Linked DNA regions of Homo sapiens. The protein of the gene in region 1 purifies or fractionates together with the protein of each later gene. This does not show direct contact. Each region holds a gene or a part of one and is shown in the gene's direction. Other genes may lie near its edges.

Region 1 (3,500 bases):
GCACATACAGCTTTATGACAGGCACTATACTGAGTTCTGGAGTTAAAAAATAACAACGATTAAGTTTTGTGTATTATTTACTGTAGGCCAGGCACCCTCCTGGACACATTATTTGAAAATATAATATATCCTTTAATGCTTACAACCCTGTTAGTTATATACTGTTATTCCCATTGTATAGGTAAGCAAACTAATTCAAGAGGCATTGTATAACTTCTTCCAGATCTCTTAACTAATAAATAATGGTCCCAGAATTCCGATCTGTGTGGTTTGAGTCAGCATTCTGAATCATAATTATAGACATATAGATTGCTTTTCAAAGGTGAGAGGAGTCCCTACCTTGAACCTTGGAAGGTTCAGCTCTAGCTGTCCTCAGGCCATTGACCTCAACCATGGGCAGGGAGTCCATGGGGCTTGCTCAAGTAAAGTCTGTCACCCCCTCTAGATCATCTCCAGAATTCTTAGCCTAAACAGCCTCAGACTACTTTTATGGCCTGCCTTCTGGGGGTAAACTGAGTCACCCCTGTGCCAAATCCTAGGTGAAGATGGCCAAGGACACTGATGCAGGAGAGGTAAACAGAGCTTGGACATGCAAGCTGAAGTGTCCATGCAGGTAAACAACAGGCTACCTGTGCTGCAGAATAAATTTAGAGGTGGGAGAGAAGAGGGGAAGATAATGGCTGGAGAGGCAACGCTTCACACACTGCCCAGTTCCTAACTAGAAATCTGGAGGTGAATATTCCAAATTCAGACCTAGCCTTCCAGGTCATTATGCATATATATTTATCAAGGAAGGAAGATAGAACTTATTTTACCTATGGGTTTCTTTGCCTGGTTTGTAGCTGTTAAATATGTAGTCTGTTATGCTCACTGCTATTTGTGTTCTTGCTGTTGGCCCTGAAACAGTTAGGGGCAGACTTGTCTACTAGTTTAAATATTACTGGGGGCCGGTTGCAGTGGCTAACAACTGTAATCCCATCACTTTGGGAGGCTGAGGTGGGAGGAACACTTGATGTCAGGAGTTCGAGACCAGCCTGGCCAACATGGAGTAAAGACCAGCCCGTCTTTACTAAAAATACAAAAATTAGCGGGGCATGGCAGTGCGCACCTGTAGTCCCAGCTACTTGACAGGCTGAGGCACAAGAATTGCTAGATCTCAGGAGGTTGCAGTGAGCCAAGATCATGCCACAGCACTCCAGGCCTGGGCAACAGAGCAAGATTGCATCTCAAAAATAGATAAATAAATAATAAACAAATAAATATTATTGAGCCGGGGAGACAAAGAAAGCACCAGAGACCATTGCATAAGGTAGTCTGGTAGTCTTGACTACCTCATGTCAAAGTGTTTTTATATTTTAATAACTAAATCCCTTTTGGTAATCTTTGAGATGTGTACAGATTATACAAAATTTTACTCTCTTGCAAATCATGTTACAATGAGAGTCAAATGTATGCATAGTCTTAATTTAGTTTTACTTATTTCCCTCTATTATTTTAAAAAATATCTTAGAAGGCTGGCCACAGTGGCTCACACCTGTAATCCCAGCACTTTTGGAGGCAGAGGTGGGTGGATCACGAGGTCAGGAGTTCGAGACCAGCCTGGTGAACAGGGTGAAACCCTGTCTCTACTAAAAATACAAAAATTAGCTGGATGTGGTTGCACACACCTACAGTCCCAGCTACTCAGGAGGCTGGGGCAAGAGAATCATTTGAACCCATGAGATGGAGGTTGCAGTGAGCCGAGATCGTGCCATTGCTCTCCAGCCTGGCGACAGAGCGAGACTCCATCTCGAAAAAAAAAAAAAAAAACAACTTAGGAAAGAACATTTTACTGACATGAATGACCTAATTTGGTCAAATTATTCAGTTGGCATATATTTGATATTTAATATCTATAAGTGAATGACTATATAGAAAAAGCAGTGCCATACTATATTCATGGAGTAAAAGGACTATTTTTCGACTTAAAGTGAATCTTAATGTGACCTTATTTCCTCTTTCGCAGTAAGTAAATTATTTGATTTACACACCAAAAAAGTGTATTGAAAGTCAGAATGATTTCCATTGGGATTTTATAATTTAATTAAAACAGACCCACCTTTTAACAAAAGTGCTAAGATCAATTCTTGCTAGGAAACTACTAATATTAAACAGATATATTTAAATTATCTTCCTGCAGTTATTGAAAAAAGTCCTTAACTAATATTAGTTTAGGAAACAAAAATAAGATTATTAACTTAAAATTGCATTGTTAAAGTGTTCTTATCAGATATATACTTTTAAGATGATTTTTAAAGATGCTTCTATTTTGAGTGCTATTATCCAAAGTACTAAAAGTTCATTTTAGGCCAGGCGCGGTGGCTCACATCTGTAATCTCAGCACTTTGGGAGGCCAAGGTGGGTGGATCACCTGAAGTCAGGAGTTCAAGACCAGCCTGGCCAATATGGTGAAACCCTGTCTCTACTAAAAATACAAAAATTAGCCGGGCATGGTGGCAGACACCTGTAATCCCAGCTACTTGGGAGGCTGAGGCAGGAGAATCGCCTGAACCCGGGAGGCGGAGGTTGCAGTGAGCCGAGATTGTGCCACTGCACTCCAGTCTGGGAGAGAAAAAGCGAGACTTTGTCTAAAATAAAATAAAATATAAAAGTTTGTTTTATAAACAGCATATAGGGTCTTATAAAGTGGCCTTTCATGCTGACCTCATCAATGAGCCAACCATCACTGCTATAATGGTTTTAGACGTGCGCTATCTCTGCCTGGTGTTTTATTGATGTTTTGCTTTGTTGTAATCAAATAATACTGTTACATTTGTTAAGGACAGAATCTGTTGCTATTCCAGATAAATATTGGTATCGTTTGTTTATTCTAGAGGATTGCCAAAAAATTCACAGTCTCGTGATAGTACAGGGTAAGAAAGCAGAGTAGCTGTCAAGGGCTAGTTCAAGTCAAAGCCTATGGAAGAGACCGAGTTTGGAAGTGGAGAGAAGGGCTGGTGATGAAGACAGGAGGATGAAAAACTAGAAATATTCCAGCTCTGAAGAACTGTACCAAATATGTCATATTAGGTATGTGAGATGTGTGGTGGATTTGGGCCAGGAATGTTTTGGTGTTTTCCATGGTTTTGGACTCAACTTCCTTTTAGGATAAAGCGGGTTGAAATTTCAAGATCTGCCGATAGTAAATGAAGCCACAGTTAAAAGTACTGCTGTTTCATGTGTACATGTGGTATCAGGGATCTTTCCTTGGAATTGAACCACAAACAGCTTCCCAGGTAAAGGCATTTTTTTTTCCTGATTTTAGTAAGGACCATATATTTAGGATTATTTCTTAGTAACTGTTACAGGTACTAGGTAGGGAAGGGGGCTGGGTGAAAAGCTTCATCCTTATGGAATGAGGGATTACCACTATGCTGTAAAGGATCATTAGAATATTATGAGGTCAAACAAAGAAAATAATTAAAAGGAAAATTCAAAATTCTACAAGGACTGGATTGACA
Region 2 (4,050 bases), on another chromosome or scaffold:
GGCTTCCCAAAGTGCTGGGATTACAGGTGTGAGCCACCGCGTGTGGTCATCTGTAGCTCTTTTGTACGACTTTTACTAAAAGGACCTGGGCAGATATATTAGTTCACTCTTGTTCTTGAAACCTATTTTGTTGGCATTATGGAGAAATTATTGCTGGATGTTACACAGTGTGGAGAAAATTGAATAAAAGTTCACTGGGAAGGGTCATGATCTATTTTGGCCATTTAAGTATGTGAGGATATATTTATCTTTATGAAAATAAATTTGAAAGTAGAAAGAAAAAGTTACTCATAATACTACTAGTTTAACCCAACGGTTACAATTTTATGTCCTCTTCTGATCGTTTTCTGTAGGCATATTTTACATCATTATAATTTGAATGTCCTTATTGTTTTGTATTATTTGACTTTTTATGGCAGCTTACTGTCGCCTTGCTGGGATTCACCATAATTTACATAATCTAGCCAAATCATGGGGAGTATGGATTTTGGAGTAGCAAGAGATTATTTTTGGAGTTAGATTTTATAAAGCTTTGGCCATCTGCAAAAATTTGAACCGTATCCTAAAGACAAGAGAAAGCTTTGAAGGTTTAAGGGAAAGGATGGACAGAGAGAATCGCATTTAAGCTCCATTTGAAGTAGAGTTATTTTTATTTTTTGTATAATTCCTTGCTTTTTGGAATGTGTGTGCTTCATATGCAGAAAAGTAGTTTCCCGATCTAGACTGCCATCTCTTTGAATTCCACTGCCACATCTGTCTCTCTTAGTTTTCTGTGTATTTTAGAGATTCCGTCAGTTTAACCTGCCTGGCTGACAGGTGGTGTCCCAAATCGAAACCGTTTTTTCCCCCGAATAAAGTGTGCCCGTGTAGCTGTACAGATTTCGTCCCCTGAAAATTCATCTGAAATCTCAATTCTCCTGAGGGGAGCAATTAAGGAAGATACATGAACTCTCCCCTCCTCTCCATCCTGTCAGGTGCCCCTCTTTTTTGATGGCCCCACCTCTGTCTAGACAACCCTGACAGTGTAGAAGTTTCCATCTCCTTTCCCTTTCCCTCTCCATGTTCCCTCCCCTTCAGTTTTTTCCCCCTCCCAGGCGCTTCCTGCCTGGAAACAAAAGATTGGTCCCCAGTAGCCCACTCAGGGCGATTTTAGTTTTATGCTCACCATCTGATTGGCCTAGGTAAGGTGCAGAGCTCGGGTGACGTAATAGCAGAGAAGGGCTAGGGAGCGGTTGCCGAGCAGGGGCTCTACCGCGGGCGGGCAGCTGTGCCAGCTAACCGTCTGGGATCTCGCACTGGGGGCTGCAGCTTTTCCCCGCCTCGAGCCAGTGTGCGGGGGCGGGAGAAGAGCCAGGGGGAGCGGGCTGGGCCCGGGGCTGCGGCTGCGGCCGCGGGGCTGCGGCTCCCCAGCCCCGCCAGCTGGAGCGCTCGGAGGTAGAGGAAAGGTCTTGACGGGGTGGCTGGATCCGTGGCAGGTAAATCCCGCGACTAACTGCACCCGGGCTACCGCGGGGGAGGGGGTGGCTGTTGGATGATGCTTTAAGGCTGCTGGGCAGATGTTCTGCCTTTCCGGACCCCCCTCCTGTCCTGTTTGTGCCCCAGCCTCGAGTCTCCTACGTGGCTCCCCGGAGCCCTGAGACCAAGCGAGCAGTTTGCATGATCCCAGTTCGCGGACAAGTGGGTGTGTCAGGGCCGTTCCCAGAGGGCCGGGGCTCCTTCGCTTGGTCAAACCCTAGACTCGTTTACTGGGGCCTGGGCCGCTTGAGGCAAAACCCGCCTTGAAAGCTACGTCAGCCTGTAAGTCTTCCCTTTCACCCCCCCGCCCGCCCCCCTACCCAGCCCCAGTAGCTGTGACAGCAGTTCCCTAGAAAAGGGGAGGGGGTGTGGCCACGGTCTGGCCAAGTCCGGGGTAGAACCCCCCCGCCCCTTACACACACACACACACACACACACACACACACACACACACACGAGGAAAGAGAAAAAGTGACGATTTTCTTAAACGGGCGCCTTCCCCTCTTTCTTTTATTTTTCTTTATCCCCCTCCCCTTTTTTTGGTGGGGGGATGGTAATAACAGGGGGACCCTTTTCTTCTCCTGTGGGGATTGGAATGATGCAATAACGCCCCCAGAAAGCTCAGGGTCCCTGGATTGGCCCTCTCTTTGTCTGGGGAGCAGTGTCATTGGGTCCACTGCCTCTCCTTCTCTCCTGTTCCCCTTAGCTCGCTGGGGGACATTGCCCTCAGTTTGTGAACTGGCTCTGGCAAGATTACTGCCGCACTTTTGGGTGAACTGAACATTTTAGATTCTTACTCTGGCAAGTTTTCCTTCCCTAGGTGGTGGTTAAGGGGTGGGGTGGGGTGGGGGATGGTGGGAAGAGGGGGATGCAGGCAAGGAGAGAGATAGAGGCCCCACTTGTTTTTTTTTTTTTTTTTGGTCCCACCTTTCAGAATCCAGTTCCAGATTCTAGACTTGAGGGTTCTGGGCTGTTGGTCTGTAGAAGCGAAGGAGAGAAGGGTGAGTGGCTTGGCTTTGGGAAGCATGATGGGGGCGGTTGCAGTGCTATTTTTAAAAAACGGCTTTCAGCAGGGAAGCCTTTAGCCATGTTAGTCTTGCTCCCCTCATGGTTTTGCAGACTCAAATCCAGGCCAAGTGTATGGCTGTCTGAGGTATTGGAACAGAAGGAGGTCCATTCCTGTTGGTGACAACACCGTGGCCCTGTTCTGGGATGAGCAAGGTGTAAAGGTCAGTGCGGTTTTCACTGGGCCATTTGCAAAATTATAATTGGGCAAGATCTGTGATTTGGTACTTGAGGCCTCCAATCAGGGGCAACTTTGGGCAAAAAGACTTGATATGGTAATGAATGACTAACAGGCAGAGGCTTGGAGAGAGAGCCATTTGTAAGCCTCTGTTTCTGGATACAAGTGTCATATCCCCCAGCCCATGCAAGAAGCAAAATGGGAAGAGACTAGGAGGTAGCCTGGGCAAGAGCTGACAGCTGAGAATCCTGAGGTCAGAGAGACCTTAGGATGTCAAGGAGCTGACCCTGCAAGTCTCCGGACAGGCAGCTGGGCCTTGTAGGAGAGATCTGACAGGAAAAGGAGGTTCACATGCAATAGGGTTATAAGCTAGGGGACACAGGACCCTAGGGACATTCTCACCAGCTAACCATTCCCACAGGTTGCAGAATTTCCTGGTCAGAGGTGGAAATGGTATATAGGGCAAACAAGTTTGCTGAGGTCTTGGGAGAGGGTGAGTGGTGGACATACCAGGTGAGGGAAACGAGAAATAAAAAGAACTGCAGGGATGGGAAGGTGCTGACATCCGAGAGTTTGCTATTATGTGTTCAGAGACTAAGCTACTAAATTAAGGTTAAAGAAGGTGGCCAAGGCAAAAAAAAAAAAAAAAATCAGGTGTACAGATCAGATGTAGTAGGCAGGAAGGCAGGAGCAAACTAGAGAGAGAGAGAAGAAAAGTCGTGGCCTTACCAACAACCCAAAAGCCCTGAATTCTCTGGTGAGATAGGCAACTCTGGAGGTTGAGGCAGCTGTAGCTCAGCCAAGAATTAGAAGGATGATTCTAGATATTTAAAATCAACAGCATCCCCACCCACGTAACCCACCTTCAGGAACCAGTAGCTTTAACCAAGAGAACAAGAAACTCAATGAGCAGCAGCCTCAACAACTGGCTCTTTCCTCCTGGGTAAGGAGAGGGCAGTGGGGAAGGACGGTGCCTCAAAGGGAAGTGGAGGCGCTATCAATCTGGCCTAGACAGGTAGGTTGACTGCTTTTACATGGGTGGGCTGGGGCCTGGTCTGGGACCCCTGCTCAAAAAAAAAAAAGAAAAAAAGCCCTCCTTCTCAGGATCCCTGGGGACCCTGTGTGCGCAGGGAACTGTGTAAAACCTTTACTTCGGAAGGTAAGTGCAGCGTTCTAGGCATCTGGGGCGTACTTAAGCCTCCGCTACGCGTCCCCCACCCCCACCCCCACCTGCCGGGGGCTAGGCGTTTCCCTCTGCAGGGCCTGGAATGGACTCGTCTGCCAAGTCGGCA
Region 3 (3,500 bases), about 130 Mb from region 1:
TTTTTTTTCTTTAAAGAACTTTACCATAGGGCAGTAATTCTGGGCTGTCATAAACAGTGGTTATAACCATACTATAAGTTTACAAAAATAATAGACTGCTGCTTAATCTTCTGGTACCATGATGTGATTTTTCCATAATAGTGCTTAGGACATGTGTTATGTTGACAATTTAGTTTCAACTAAGAATGAAACGTTCGTACCAGACAGTGGCGCGTGCTGTTGAAAACTGCACTGACATCAGAACTTTCTGTATGCTTTAATACGTATATAAAGCAAAGTGTCATAACGCTGCTTTATAAAACTAAAGACTACTGTGCTGTTGCGTAATAGGTACCTTTCTCTTTAATTCCTAGAGTTGCTCAGTAAATAACTCTCTTGGTCCCCAAAAGTCTGAATACCTCAATTGAACCTGGTGTTTTGATCCTCTTTTCTCTTTCTCTGTTTCTCTCTCTCTCCCCCACCTCCCTCCCTCTCTCCCTCTCTCCTTCAGATGCTGATGGCACCCCTCTAGCAACCTGTAGACTGAAGCTCAGGTCATTGTGACTGACATGCAGAGAATAAATCAAATAATATGCCAGTTTCAAATATAAAAATACAGATTTATGGGATAAATCAGCAGGATTTATAAATGTCCTGAGGTCTAGAAGGTTCTGGAGTTAGTGATGCTCATCCCTTGTTTTGAGATCACAGAGCCAATGATTTTTGTGTTCCATCCATCCTCTTCTCCCAGAAATTATGAAGGTCATCAGACTTTCCCCTAAAGTTCTAGAACAGCTAGTCATTTTTAAATATTGGCTTGAACCACATTATCACCTCCAGGCCATTCTTAAAGCTTCACTTTGTAGGCTGTTTCTGGCATAATATTGTAATCCACTCTGCGTCTACTTTGATTTCTTCAGGTAATACATGAAAAACTTTGGGTAAAGTTTGTTTGTGATGCTATATGAAGACTACTCAAAGATAATTTTTTTTCCCCACAGGATGAATATTCTATCTTTCCTCAGACATACTCCATAGATATTAATGGCTATATTCTTGTGTATTCTGTTACATCAATCAAAAGGTAAGACTCCTGCTGCCTGCTTGAGTTGATTTGCTACTCATAGATAACATTGATCCTTTTAAGGGACTGTGCTGGAATTATTAATAGTGACAATTAGAATTATTAGGCTACATGTTTTTTAGTGATTTTCTCGTGGAGCAACTGGATTGCTGGGAAACATGGCCCACTAGATGTTCTGTTAGTTACACCAATAGGATAAAAGGCTCTTTCTTACCTCAAGCTACCTAGAAAAACAGTGGTTCAGCATGATCTAAGCTTTTCTGCTAATTGAAATGGGAAATGCCTAAATTAATTTTACTTTGTGTGTGTTTTTACCATATTAAGGTGAAATAGACTTTCTAATAAAATGTGGGGGTTTGGGTTTGTTCAATATCTTATCCTTTGAATTTATGAAATAAGACCTTTTGGTAATAGAGTCTGACTTTACTACATAAAAACAAAGCCACTATTTTTATTAATAAGAATGGATATCGGTTCCTCTAGCTACGTATTTCATGTCTCCTCTTATCGGGGGATGGCATGTATTATCAGGAGGAGCAGTGGTCTGTGTCTGTTAACAGAACAGCTGGCTGTATACAGCAGCGGAGCTCTGGGCATTGGTGACAGCTTATGTTTGAAGACTTTATGAAAATATCAGTGCCAGTGGAGGGCGTTTGGTGGCTACGTAGCATCTATTGAGTGTGTGCGACATGTTAGGGAGTTTGCTACTCTCTTTGCCTACATATGATACATTACTTATTTCATCATTACCTTAATCCTTCATCAGAGATGTTTTATATCCCACTTTACGTGGAAAGAAACTGAGTGACAGAGACCTAAAGCAGCTTGCCCAGGGCTACATAATGACATTGCTGGGATTCATAGCCATCTCTCCAGTTCCACAGTCAAGGCTGACACTGTCCAATAGAACTTACTGCGGTGATAGAAGTGTTTGCTCTCTGTGCTGCAGGTGGCTGTTTAACTAAAAATGGAAAATTAAGCCTCCCTCGGTTACAGTAGCCCCATTTCAGGTGCTCAGTAGCCACATGTGGCTGGAGGCTGCCATGTTGGCCAGTGTCTGGGTTCCTTACCCCCACATACTCCACTGCCAGTGAAAATTCAGTCTGCTGCTCTGTGAGTGTGTTGTTTAACATTTTTCTCCGTGGCAGAGAAACATACTTTAGGGTGTTGAGTTCTAGCTATAAAATGTTTGAGTACCATTCTCGGCCATTCTTATAAACAGACCCCATACTGTCAATCCCCGAGAAAGTTTACACCTGAATCAAAACCAAGTACCAGAATTATGTGTTCCTTAAGGAAAATTGAGGAACTGTGAAAAATAGAAAGTGAGGGTAATCATTCTTAATCTAATTACCTAAGCATAGATACTGTTAATATCTTGGTATATGTTTTTTCTGGTCTTTGTTTTAGTCTGCATGGATTGTTTTAACATCCTTTTATTTGCTCTCTGAATGCTGTTTTATGGTTTATATTTTCCATGTTTTTATATTTTTACTTACCATGTAATATATATTTTTCCATATTACCTAGTATTTGAAATAGTAAATGGCTTTATAATATTTCATGTTCAATGATAGATGGATATCTCTCTTCCTGTTTAATGTATTTATTTATATTGTCACTGAAAGCAATGCTTGGATTGGATTTTATGCTTAAAACCACTGTGTACTTAGTATTTGGAAACATGATCATTTTCTTACTGACTTATAAGAGCACTTTAAATAGTAAAACTATTGGCCATTTTTATACAAAGATTTTTTTAATTTCAGTTGTATATTTTTAAAATGTATATACTGCCACGTGTAAGGCCTTGTCCAGAACAAATTTAGTGTACCAATAATCTAATGAATGTTGGAAGTTCATGTTTGTTTATGAATTTCCATTATTTTACTAATTTACTTGAAAAACATGATTCAAAGATTGTTTTGTTGTTGGTAAGTACAATTTTATCCTAGCTGATTTTTAGAAAACAGTGTTGGTGTTACTTTACAAATTGTTACTTTGAGGCATTAAAGTAGTAGGTAGAAAATTTTCTTAGTGCATCCACTGATTTTTTTTAAGTCTCTTTTTTGGTGTGCACAAATTAGATGACATTATAGAATCAAGTTGAAAACATAGCATGTGCCACTGGGGAAATTGAAAAATACATTGAGCTGGATTAAAAATATGAAAGTGTGCTCACCAAGGACCTTATGTATTTGAGAAAACACTGGCCTAGTGCAAAGCAGAGGACAAAAAGCTTGGTACTGTGTCTTCTCAGTGGCACTGTTGCAAGTTTTGACCAAGTTTCTCCTTACTAAAATGGGTGTGTTTTCTTTTGTTATATGCCTTTTACCTCAGTAACTCATAGTTTAATGAGCATTCTCAAATCTCAAACATGAGTGTGAGAAGAGTGGTGTTTTGTTTTTTAGAAACCTATATGCTGAATACACAAATA
Region 4 (3,500 bases), on another chromosome or scaffold:
ATTTTTTACTGTTGGGGTAAGAGCTCACTTTGCTAGGAGTTACCTACCTTGCTAGAAATGCAGTGTTAAAGTACTTTGTCCCATTTGGGCTCCCTTAAAGTAAGGACAGGTAGAGGGGGGATCAAAAAGAGCTGGGCTCATGAATTCTAATTATAGAGTCTGAATTTTTTTTTTTTTTTTTGAGACGGAGTCTCACTCTGTCGCCCAGGTTGGAGTGCAGTGGCGCGATCTCGGCTCACTGCAAGCTCCACCTCCTGGGTTCACACCATTCTCCTGCCTCAGCTTCCCAAGTAGCTGGGACTGTAGGCACTGGCCACCACGCCTGGCTAATTTTTTGTATTTTTAGTAGAGACGGGGTTTCACCTTGTTAGCCAGGATGGTCTCGATCTCCTGACCTCATGATCCGCCCGCCTTGGCCTCCCAAAGTTCTGGGATTACAGGAGTGAGCCACTGCGCCCGGCCTAGAGTCTGAACTTAAAAATTGCTTTTATTATTAAATTCTGGCTTACTTATGTAAGCCCTAGAGAATAAACATATGGGCCTTGTTTGGTACAGCATTTCAAGCGGTGCTAAGTTGGTATTTTCAGTTTTATTTGAGGATTTATAGCTGGAAACAGGCCCCAGGGTATTGTGAAGTTAATACAATGGGAAACAATAAAATGTCCTTTTTGGCCAGGCACAGTGGCTCATGCCTGTAATCCCAGCACTGGAGGCCAAGGTGGGTGGATCACCTGAGGTCAGGAGTTCGAGACCCCTCTGGCCAACATGATGAAACCCCGTCTCTACTAAAAATACAAAAATTAGCCGGGCCTGGAGGCAGGTACCTGTAATCCTAGCTACTCCAGAGGCTGAGACAGGAGAATCACTTGAACCTGGCAGGCAGAGGTTGCAGTGAGCCCATATCGCACCATTACAGTCTGGCCTGGGAGACAAGAGTGAAACTCCATCTCAAAAAGAAAAAAAAAAGCCCTTTTCACTTATTAGGTTTCACTGTGCCAAGTATTCCCTTCTGTTGGTTTGTAAAAAGCAATGACAGTGAAGAATTCTCCTTGGAAATAATGTATAGATCTATTTCCCTCTTAAATCTATTTTGTAATATATCTAATTTTATATAGTTTACAGGCTGTGCATTTGGATCAGCTGCTATTTGGCAATATGAATCACTGAAATCCAGGGTCCAGAGTTATTTTGATGGTATAAAAGCTGATTGGTTGGATAGCATAAGACCACAAAAAGAAGGAGACTTCAGAAAGGAGGTAAAGATAAACACTGCTTTCTTTCTTCTAGTTAATCACGGTTTTAAAAAACTGATACTTAATAGATGCACGTGTTTTCAGTGTACATGATGCATTCACATAATGTGTAATAATGAAATCTGAGGAACTGAATATCTATCACCTTAAACATTTATCTTTATGCTAGGTATATTTGAATTGTTCTCCACTAGCTATTTTGAAATGTACTATAGATTATAGTTGACTGTAGTTACTCTACTGGTAATCCCAGGTTTTGAAGCCTGGTTATTTATGAAGTGCTTTTAGTTAATGGCAACATCAGATTAATAGATGTCAAGTCAGTGCACTTAATATTCTTCACAGTAAGTATTGATTACTGTTTTATATATCTGGTGTTGTACTTAACAGTGTTCCAGAATTCTGTCCCTCTACCCACATGCATCAAAAATCACCACGGATAGTTGTTAAAAATGTTAACGTTGGCCGGGCACAGCGGCTCAAGTCTATAATCCTAGCACTTTGGGAGGCCAAGGCAGTCAGGAGCTGGAGACCAGCCTGGCCAACATAGTGAAATCCCATCTCTACTGAAAATACAAAAATTAGCCAGGCGTGGTGGTGCATGCCTGTGGCCCCAGCTACTCAGGAAGCTGAGGCAGGAGAATCGCCTGAACCCAAGAGGCAGAGGTTGCAGTGAGACGAGATTGTGCCACTGCACTCCAGCCTGGGTGACAGAGCGAGAACTCATCTCAAAAAAAAAAAAAAAGAAAAGAAATTAATGTTAATAGTTGTTAATGTTTCTGCGTGGAGGATGTCTCAGCTCTACTAAAGTTTAAGGATCTCAGTGGATCTCAGCTCTACTAAAGTTTAAAGGCCACTGTTTTACTTGGATCACCTTGATGGATTGCTTTAGAGCAGCAGTCACCAACCTTTTTGGTACCAGGGACTGGTTTTGTGCAAGACAATTTTTCCACAGGTCGGGGTTGCAGGGGGGCAGATGGTTATGGGATGAAACTGTTCCACCTCAGATCATCAGGCATTAGATTCTCATAAGGAGCGTGCCACCTAGATCCCTCACATGTGCATCTCACAGTAGGGTTTGCATTCATGTGAGAATCTTATGCAGCCACTGATCTGACAGGAGGCAGAGCTCTGGTGGTAATGCTCTCCCACTGCTCACCTCCTGCTGTGTGGCCCAGTTCCTAACAGGCCACGGACCACTAGTGGTCAGCAGCCGGGTTGTTGGGGACCCTGGCTTTAGAGTACGTATTTGAACTGCAGGGAATTTTTCAAAATATACATGCCTTAGGGATAGAGCTAGCAAGTGATTTTTTTTTCTAAGAGACAGCGTCCCACTCTGTCACCTAGGCCTCAGTGCAGTAATGGGATCATAGCTCACTGAAGCCTCAAACTCCTGGGTTTGAGCAGTCCTCCCGCCTCAGTCTCCTGAGTAGCTGGGACTACAGGCGTGTGCCACCATGCTGGGCCAATTATTTCATTTTTTGTGGAGACAGGAGTCTCACTTTGTTGCCCAGGCTGGTCTCAAACTCCTGACCTCAAGTGATCTCCCACCTTGGCCTCCCAAAGTGCTGGAATTTCACAAGTGTGAGCCACTGTGCCTGGCCCCAAGAGGAGTTTTAAACGTTTCTCAGTGACATGATATTTACACACCTGTGGTAAATACCTGCTGTTGAGTGTCTCTAAACTGTGCTCGAGATGAAATACGGAAAAAAAAAAAAAAAAAAGAAATATGGAGCTTTTAGAGCTTTTCATTTACTTTATATGCAAGTCGATGGCCCTCTTTCTTAACTGATTTCTTAAAAATGTTTGCTTTTAGATAAAACATGTATTTTGTTTCTTTTTTTTTTTCTTTTGAGACAGAGTCTCACTTGTTGCCCAGGCTGGAGTGCAGTGGCGCGATCTCTGCTCACTGCAAGCTCTGCCTCCCGGGTTCACGCCATTCTCCTTCCTCAGCCTCCGGAGTAGCTGGGACTACAGGTGCCCGCCACCACGCCCGGCTAATTTTTTGTATTTTTGGTAGAGACGGGGTTTCACCGTGTTAGCCAGGATGGTCTCGATCTCCTGACCTCGTGATCTGCCCACCTCGGCCTCCAAAAGTGCTGGGATTACAGGCATGAGCCACCGAGCCCAGCCAATATTTTATTTCTTTTATTCACCAATACATATTGAACACTGAGATTTTAGTTAATATGTGGTTTCAGGCCCATTTGGTTTTCAAGCACTTCTGTTTTTTTAATGACACATTGC

Evidence for each region. The genes of interacting proteins can lie anywhere in the genome.
Region 2: the proteins of ITGB8 (region 1) and PAK3 purify together in Homo sapiens (affinity purification with mass spectrometry; one large-scale study listed by BioGRID and IntAct). This does not show direct contact.
Region 3: the proteins of ITGB8 (region 1) and RHEB purify together in Homo sapiens (affinity purification with mass spectrometry, with the first as the bait; one large-scale study listed by BioGRID). This does not show direct contact.
Region 4: the proteins of ITGB8 (region 1) and PARL purify together in Homo sapiens (affinity purification with mass spectrometry; one large-scale study listed by BioGRID and IntAct). This does not show direct contact.

The regions. Positions count from the first base shown.
Region 1 is NC_000007.14:20,337,400-20,340,899, forward strand, and holds part of ITGB8 (integrin beta-8 precursor), read left to right. Parts: intron 1-2,873; exon of another isoform or gene 2,874-3,069; intron 3,070-3,500. UniProt on the Homo sapiens protein: Integrin alpha-V:beta-8 (ITGAV:ITGB8) is a receptor for fibronectin. It recognizes the sequence R-G-D in its ligands.
Region 2 is NC_000023.11:111,094,941-111,098,990, forward strand, and holds the start of PAK3 (serine/threonine-protein kinase PAK 3), read left to right. Parts: upstream 1-1,250; 5' UTR 1,251-1,475; intron 1,476-1,602; exon of another isoform or gene 1,603-1,797; intron 1,798-2,449; 5' UTR 2,450-2,516; intron 2,517-2,634; 5' UTR 2,635-2,744; intron 2,745-4,050. UniProt on the Homo sapiens protein: Serine/threonine protein kinase that plays a role in a variety of different signaling pathways including cytoskeleton regulation, cell migration, or cell cycle regulation.
Region 3 is NC_000007.14:151,474,896-151,478,395, reverse strand, and holds part of RHEB (GTP-binding protein Rheb), read left to right. Parts: intron 1-980; coding exon 981-1,063; intron 1,064-3,500. UniProt on the Homo sapiens protein: Small GTPase that acts as an allosteric activator of the canonical mTORC1 complex, an evolutionarily conserved central nutrient sensor that stimulates anabolic reactions and macromolecule biosynthesis to promote cellular biomass generation and growth.
Region 4 is NC_000003.12:183,864,381-183,867,880, reverse strand, and holds part of PARL (presenilin-associated rhomboid-like protein, mitochondrial isoform 1 precursor), read left to right. Parts: coding exon 1-16; intron 17-1,115; coding exon 1,116-1,256; intron 1,257-3,500. UniProt on the Homo sapiens protein: Required for the control of apoptosis during postnatal growth. Essential for proteolytic processing of an antiapoptotic form of OPA1 which prevents the release of mitochondrial cytochrome c in response to intrinsic apoptotic signals.